Homo sapiens: one gene and its partner. The protein of the gene in region 1 purifies or fractionates together with the protein of each later gene. This does not show direct contact. Each region holds a gene or a part of one and is shown on either strand. Other genes may lie near its edges. The genes, in order: CFAP299 and ANKRD30B.

Region 1 (3,836 bases):
ATCAAGTATTTGTAATAAGTATAAATAACTAAATGTTTAAGTTAAAAACAAGCTTATTAGAATATATATATGTATCATATATCATGAAACACAATAACACTTAAAGGTTGAAAGTTAAGTGATCAAAAAACATACATACGGGAGAGTTTTTATCCAAAAAGAGCAGTTATCAGTATACTAATATTAGACAAAATGGATTTTCACATAAAAACCATTACTAGGGATGGAGCTTCACTACATAATGATACAAGGTTAATGTCATAGAAAAACATACAATTCAAAACTTGAGTGAACCTTTAAAAACAAAGTTTCAAGATATTTAAAGCACAAATTGATAGAACTAGAAGAACATATAGACAATTCATGATCACCTTGATGAATTCACTGCCATTATTTCTAGATTAAGCAGAAAATGAATACATAAAAATTATAAAATTGATGTCGATTTAAAGAACTTGAAAACAAACGTGAAGTCTTGGTGTTTATCATAAGCTAATACCAAAATTTCTTTACACTTCATTGTTCTTGTAAGTAAAATGACTGATAATCTAAAATTATATACATTTGGCCATAATTTCACTATTTTATGTTACTATATATAGCCTTCTTGGGTCAGTTAAATCCCCTTTTCCCTGAAACCTGATTAAATTTATTTCAAATATCACTTCTCCAGCTCTGTGAGAGTTAAATGTCTGCTCTGTGATTTTTGTGAATTCTTGGTTTTCTGATGCTGGAGGACTTTAAGTGAGGTCAAGCGGACTATAAGTGCGGGTCCCTCTAGAATCATCGTATACAGCCCTGGGCAAGTCACTCAAACTACTCTCAATGTCTCACTTAGATTCATTAGTTCTGTGCTCTTAAGCACCTTCCTGAAAAATCCAGCAAGTTTCTACCAAAAACAAAGCAAAACAAAAACAAACAAAACAACAGAATCCTGCTTAAACCTGAGCATTTAACTAGTTTGGCCATTGAGCAGCCTCTTTCTTCATGATTCTCCTTTAAGTATGTAGAGCAACAGAGACTCCCTGCCTGCCTGGAACTGCTTAGCTTACATTCATGTGCTGTCAGGGTCATCTGCCCTGAGCACCCAATTTGTAAACATCATGCAAATACTGTTGTTTATTTTCTCAATTAGAATTCTGGTTATTAATCATTGTATCTATGATTTTTTTAAATTTTCAACCAGAAAATGCCCAATTAAATTTTTTAAACCTAAGCTTCTAAATGCAAAAACGATAATCACCTGTGGCTGTTCTCACACAAACCTGCATAGAACAAATGTAAATTCCCTCATTATGTCTTTCCAAGTATGGTTACATATGTGTAAAAGTATAAGAAGATTTGGGAAGATATATATATATATATATATATATATATATATATATAATACTTTAAGTTCTACGGTGCACAAGGTGCAGGTTAGTTACATATGTATACATGTACCATGTTGGTGTGCTGAACCCATTAACTCGTCATTTACCTTAGGTATATCTCCTAATGCTATACCTCCCCCCTCCCCCCACCCCACAACAGACCCTGGTGTGTGATGTTCCCCACCCTGTGTCCAAGTGTTTTCATTGTTCAATTCCCACCTGTGAGTGAGAACATGTGGTGTTTGGTTTTTTGTCCTTGCCATAGTTTGCTGAGAATGATGGTTTCCAACTTCATCCATGGCCCTACAAAGGACACGAACTCATCATTTTTTATGGCTGCATAGTATTCCATGGTGTATATGTGCCACAGAATCTACAAAGACTTGGGAAGATTTTTAAGAAGACTTTTTAGTGAAATTTTTAAAAAGTTTGCTAAAATAAAATATTTTTCTAATGAACACAATGCTTTATTAAATTATTTTTAAAATCCGATTGGAATTATTAGTATGTAGTAATTGCTGACAAATTGTCAGGAAATTACAACTAAACATTTAATTTTAGAAATACATCTTTTAAATGGCACAGTTGAGGGTTATAGAGGCAGAAGAAATGATAACACTGATAATCAGACAGATGTGGTGGCAGATATTAATAGTTGTCAAGAACTTGAGGGTTGGTTGAAATTTCACTGCCTTATTTATATTTTGTGGATTGCCTAAGAATTTGAATGAAGTTAAACTAACAGTCTCAGTTAATTGTGTATTCATTTCAAAATGCATATTTTGCTCCAGAGTTAATAGTAATTATTTCTTCTATGAATACTTGTTATCGTTTATTAAGAAGCCACTATATTCTGAGTGAAGTTTTAAAAGCTTCACATTCATTATCTCATTTAATTGTTTCAAACATTTTATTATGGCTAGATAGCATTATTACCCTCATTTTATAAATGTGGGAGATGAAAGCATTGAGAGTTTTGGTAACTCCCAAGGATATGTAGCTAGAGAGGGGAGCATCCAAACTCACACCCAGCTTGGCTTCCCATGATATTCAGGTTCTTATCTACTGCATGATGGATAGACTTGGATTCAAATGCTGGCTCTGTCACCTACTTACTGTGTGACACTGGTAAGTTAGTAATACATTTTAAAATTTAGTTTCCTCTATAATAAAATGGGCATAATAATACCTAAATTGGTGTGTGAATTAAATAACACTATTTTGCTAAGCCCTTGGTAATGCCTGATACATGGTAAGCACTCAATAAATAATATCTATTGCTTTTGAAAACTTTTGTCATTAATGTTGCTATTGTATTTGTAGCATGTTAAGAGTTTTATAAATTCCTTAGGGGATATGGAAATGGAATAATCATATCAGAATTCCATTGCCTGGTGTATATAGTTATGTTAGGGTTGCCATACATGGTTCAGTTTCTTTCTTAAGTTTAGTTATTCACAGTTAAAACTTTTTATATAATTTGAAGCTAAAATTGAAACAAACGTTTTAGTTATTATATATATATACCTATATATACGTATATGTATATATACGTATATATAGGTATATATGTATATATATGTGTATATATGTATACACATAGGTATATATATACTTATATAGGTATATATATATATATATACCTATATATATACACATACACACACATATATACAAGACACACCCAATTGACAATAAAACCACTATTGTGGCATCCAGAATGGGGCAAATAGGTCAAAAGAGCCCCTTGAAGAATTAGGTTTATTTCAGCCTGAGTGTGATGTATTTCAGTAACTGAAAGCTTTGTTATTCAGAGCCCTATAGACTTAAGAATAATTTTAAAATGTTATAAATAATTGCTTAGGTTTAACTAAAAACATTTTTAAATAAAAGCTTTATTTAAGTATAGTTTACTTAACATAAAAATTCACAATGAAGTTTAAGTGATTTCAATGATTTTTGGTAAATTTATGGAGTTGCACAATACAACTCCAATTTAGAATATTCTCATCACTCCCAAGAGATCCCTTATGACATTTGTAGCCATCCCTATCTCCACCCCCAGCCCCAGGCAATCACTAATCTACTTTCTATCTCTATAGAGTCTCTTTTCTGGATTTTTCATAAAAGTGGAATCATACAATATATGATCTTTTTCATTCTAATAACATTTTTAATCACAGTTAATTTCCCAAAAGACACATGAAAACGATACTTTATATATTAAAAGGCTTTTAAAAATGATGATGCTATGTTTATAAAGGAAAAACTTCCAAAATTCATATTTTCCTTAGATAAAACCCTTTAATCCTATCTAGAACAAGTCAAGGTACAACCAACAAAAGCATTAAAAAAATCACATGCTATTCATTTGAAGCCATGAATACGGATCTATTTATTGGCAACCTAAGCAGAAAATACTAGTTTTTGGTTAACCATGTAAAAAATCCCCACATGAACAAG
Region 2 (3,836 bases), on another chromosome or scaffold:
GGAAGACAGCCCCCAGGGGACATTATCAGGTTTTCTGCCGAAGTGGACATTTCCAGACCCAAATAACTAATTAGAAAAATCAAAATTGTGACACTGTGTTTATCCCGAGCCTAGGGGTTATACTTCAAATCAAGCAGTCAACATTAGGATCCCTAGGGATAAAGCTGTTGAAAGTCCTAAAATAAAGAATCCTGGACCCAGTACTCCTTCTAACTAGTCTGGCTTTTTGCCTAGTTTCTGGCTGATGAAGTGAACTAAGTCACTGTCTTTCAAAAACTCCCTGAAACAAACAATAAAATTTCACCTAGCCTTTAAATGTAAACACTTACTAATTAACTCCACAAGCAGCAGCATAACGTTCTGCAGTTATTCCATGTATGTCTTCAGCAAAGACGTCAACATTTTGCTGAAGAAGCATGCCGACTATCTCTGATGAGCCTTCACATATGGCAAGCATGAGGGCTGTGCTAAAATAACAAAGAGATAACTTATTATGAGCAGAATCAATTTAATATGTGCCTATCAGTGTAGAATTAACCATTTACATGTACTAACAAACATAAGTATCTTGAGTGCTCAAGTGTTTATCCTTGCAAATCACCACCAAATCTAAAAGGAAGGGGCAAAAAGACTCATGTCCCACTGGGGTGTGGCATACTAGAATTGGCTAACATAAAGTCCCTTGAGGGGCAAGGAATTATGATTTGTTCACTAACCTAAAAGAGGCAAAGATTTAAGGGAAGAATTATCTATTTCTTGCTTAGTCTGATATAATATTTTATACTTAAAAATCAGCTAGAAGTCAGACAAGAGAGAGCAATCTGAAGGCTTAAAACAATATTAGGAATAATGATATTAGTAGTAGTCATAGTAAGTTTAGTTAATGATGTTGATAAGAATGTATGAGACACTGAATTAAATGCTGTTGATATTTATAATGTTACTTCAACACAATCATCCTTAAAGCACATATCATTATTCTCCTTTTCACATAGAAAGTCATACTCGGTATTATGTAATGTTTGCAAGGTCACACCTATCAAGTGAGGAAGCTAGAAATTAAACTCAGTCTTGTGTGAATCAAAAGCCTATCTCTTTTCTCTTTATCATTCACCTATGGCTTATCTTAATTAACTAAAATATTAATCAAATTAAAGATGTCTTTCTTCCCTCTACCCATACAAATTAAAAATAAAAATACACTATGAAAAAAATGAAAAAAATAATAAATTCACAGTATCTGGTGATAGCAATTAATAGTCAGTCACATAGGGATAACCTAAAATTAATATGCTTCAAAGAAAACAACTTTATTAAAGCAAATAGTCGTCCTAAAGACAAAATGGTTTTAAACTCCTGTTTCTATTTAATATTGCTTTTTTTTTCCTTTGAGACAGAATCTCGCTCTATTACCCAGGCTGGAGTGTGGTAGCATGATCTCAGCTCACTGCAACCTCTGCCTTCTGGGTTCAAGCGATTCTCGTGCCTCAGTCCCCTGAGTAGCTGGGACTACAGGCATGCGCCACCATGGCAGTAATTTTTGTATTTTTAGTAGAGATGCGGTTTTACCATATTGGCTAGGCTGGTCTCAAACTCCTGGCCTCAAGTGATCCAACCACCTTGGCCTCCCAAACTGCTGGGATAACAGGCAACAACTACCATGCCCAGCAAATATTGCATTTTTTAAAAAGTGTATAAGGTGTAAAAATTAATTCAGGATGGATTAAAGACTTACATGTTAGACCTAAAACCATAAAAACTCTAGAAGAAAACCTAGGCAATACCATTCAGGACATAGGCATGGGCAAGGACTTCACATCTAAAACACCAAAAGCAATGGCAACAAAAGCCAAAATTGACAAATGGGATCTAATTAAACTAAAGAGCTTCTGCACAGCAAAAGAAACTACCATCAGAGTGAACAGGCAACCTACAGAATGGGAGAAAATTTTTGCAACCTACTCATCTAACAAAGGGCTAATATCCAGAATCTACAATGAACTCAAACAAATTTACAAGAAAAAAACAAACAACCCCATCAAAAAGTGGGCAAAGGGTATGAACAGACACTTCTCAAAAGAAGACATTTATGCAGCCAAAAGACACATGAAAAAATGCTCACCATCACTGGCCATCAGAGAAATGCAAATCAAAACCACAATGAGATACCATCTCACACTAGTTAGAATGGCGATCATTAAAAAGTCAGGAAACAACAGGTGCTGGAGAGGATGTGGAGAAATAGGAACACTTTTACACTGTTGGTGGGAATGTAAACTAGTTCAACCATTGTGGAAGTCGGTGTGGCGATTCCTCAGGGATCTAGAACTAGAAATACCATTTGACCCAGCCATCCCATTACTGGGTATATACCCAAAGGACTCTAAATCATGCTGCTATAAAGACACATGCACACGTATGTTTATTGTGGCACTATTCACAATAGCAAAGACTTGGAACCAACCCAAATGTCCAACAATGATAGACTGGATTAAGAAAATGTGGCACATATACACCATGGAATACTATGCAGCCATAAAAAATGATGAGTTCATGTCCTTTGTAGGAACATGGATGAAGCTGGAAACTATCATTCTCAGCAAACTATCGCAAGGACAAAAAACCAAACACCACATGTTCTCACTCATAGGTGGGAAGTGAACAGTGAGAACACATGGACACAGGAAGGGGAACATCACACACCAGGGACTGTTGAGGGGTGAGGGGAAGGAAGGGGGAGGGATAGCATTAGGAGATATACCTAATGCTAAATGACGAGTTAATGGGTGCAGCCCACCAACATGGCACACGTATACATATGTAACAAACCTGCACAATGTGCACATGTACCCTAAAACTTAAAAGTATAATAATAATAAAAAAAGAAATTAAAAAAGTGTATAAAAAAGAGAAGTTAGAAAAATACTATAAAACTGTTAATAATTCAATATTGAATTATAAAGCAAACTAAAAAAGTTCATACTTCTTAAAACTGATGCAGAACCACTTTAGCTAATAGAAAATAATGCAACCAAAATCATCAGATTACAAATAAGAATCAGTCAATATAATAAGAGAAGATAAGTCCTACTATACACTGTTTTTTATGTTGACCAGTCCAAATAATTGCTTTTCTTCTGATAATTTGTGTTGATATGTTTCACTATAATCTAATAATTTTAACTAAATGTTGTTAATTTAATATTTCTGACTTGAGCATTATTACTCTAGAACACTAGTCAAGTGTTTTTTAGTAAAAAAAAAGAACTACCATACCATTTAGACTCATTAAATGCGTTTGCATTTGCATTTTTTGTTAGTAAAAATTCCACAGTTTGCTTGCTTCTTTTCTGTATGGCCAGTAAAAGGGGTGTGAGGCTAGCCTGTAAAATAGCAGAACAATATATAATTCATGAAATTACATATTTCTCAGCTGAACTGAATACCTTATATTATATCCTATTAACTTAAACACATAAAGTAGAAAGTAAATAAGTAAATCAATAGCAGTCCCTTCTTTCTCCTTTTTCTGTGCTTTCCCATGCACTGCACCTTCCCTTGTAAATATTCAGCCTCTGCATCACCACATTAATTCTGGTTATCTCCAAAAATCATTATATTGTAATGATTTTATGGTTTCCCATCTAAACCAAGAGCTTCATGAGGGCAAGGGCTGTATCTTTTATCTCTATATCCTTAAACCCTAAGACATAGTAGTAAATACTTTGTTTTTGACTAAATGAGTAATCTATAATATTACCTCTAGAGCAGTGTTTCTTAAACTATATTCCAAAGAATAATTACCTTACCAGAAGCACTGTACCCCAACAGATTCC

The links.
Region 2: the proteins of CFAP299 (region 1) and ANKRD30B purify together in Homo sapiens (affinity purification with mass spectrometry, with the first as the bait; one large-scale study listed by BioGRID). This does not show direct contact.

The regions. Positions count from the first base shown.
Region 1 is NC_000004.12:80,863,610-80,867,445, reverse strand, and holds part of CFAP299 (cilia- and flagella-associated protein 299), read right to left. Parts: intron 1-3,836. UniProt on the Homo sapiens protein: May be involved in spermatogenesis.
Region 2 is NC_000018.10:14,754,446-14,758,281, reverse strand, and holds part of ANKRD30B (ankyrin repeat domain-containing protein 30B), read right to left. Parts: intron 3,384-3,836; coding exon 3,277-3,383; intron 468-3,276; coding exon 330-467; intron 1-329.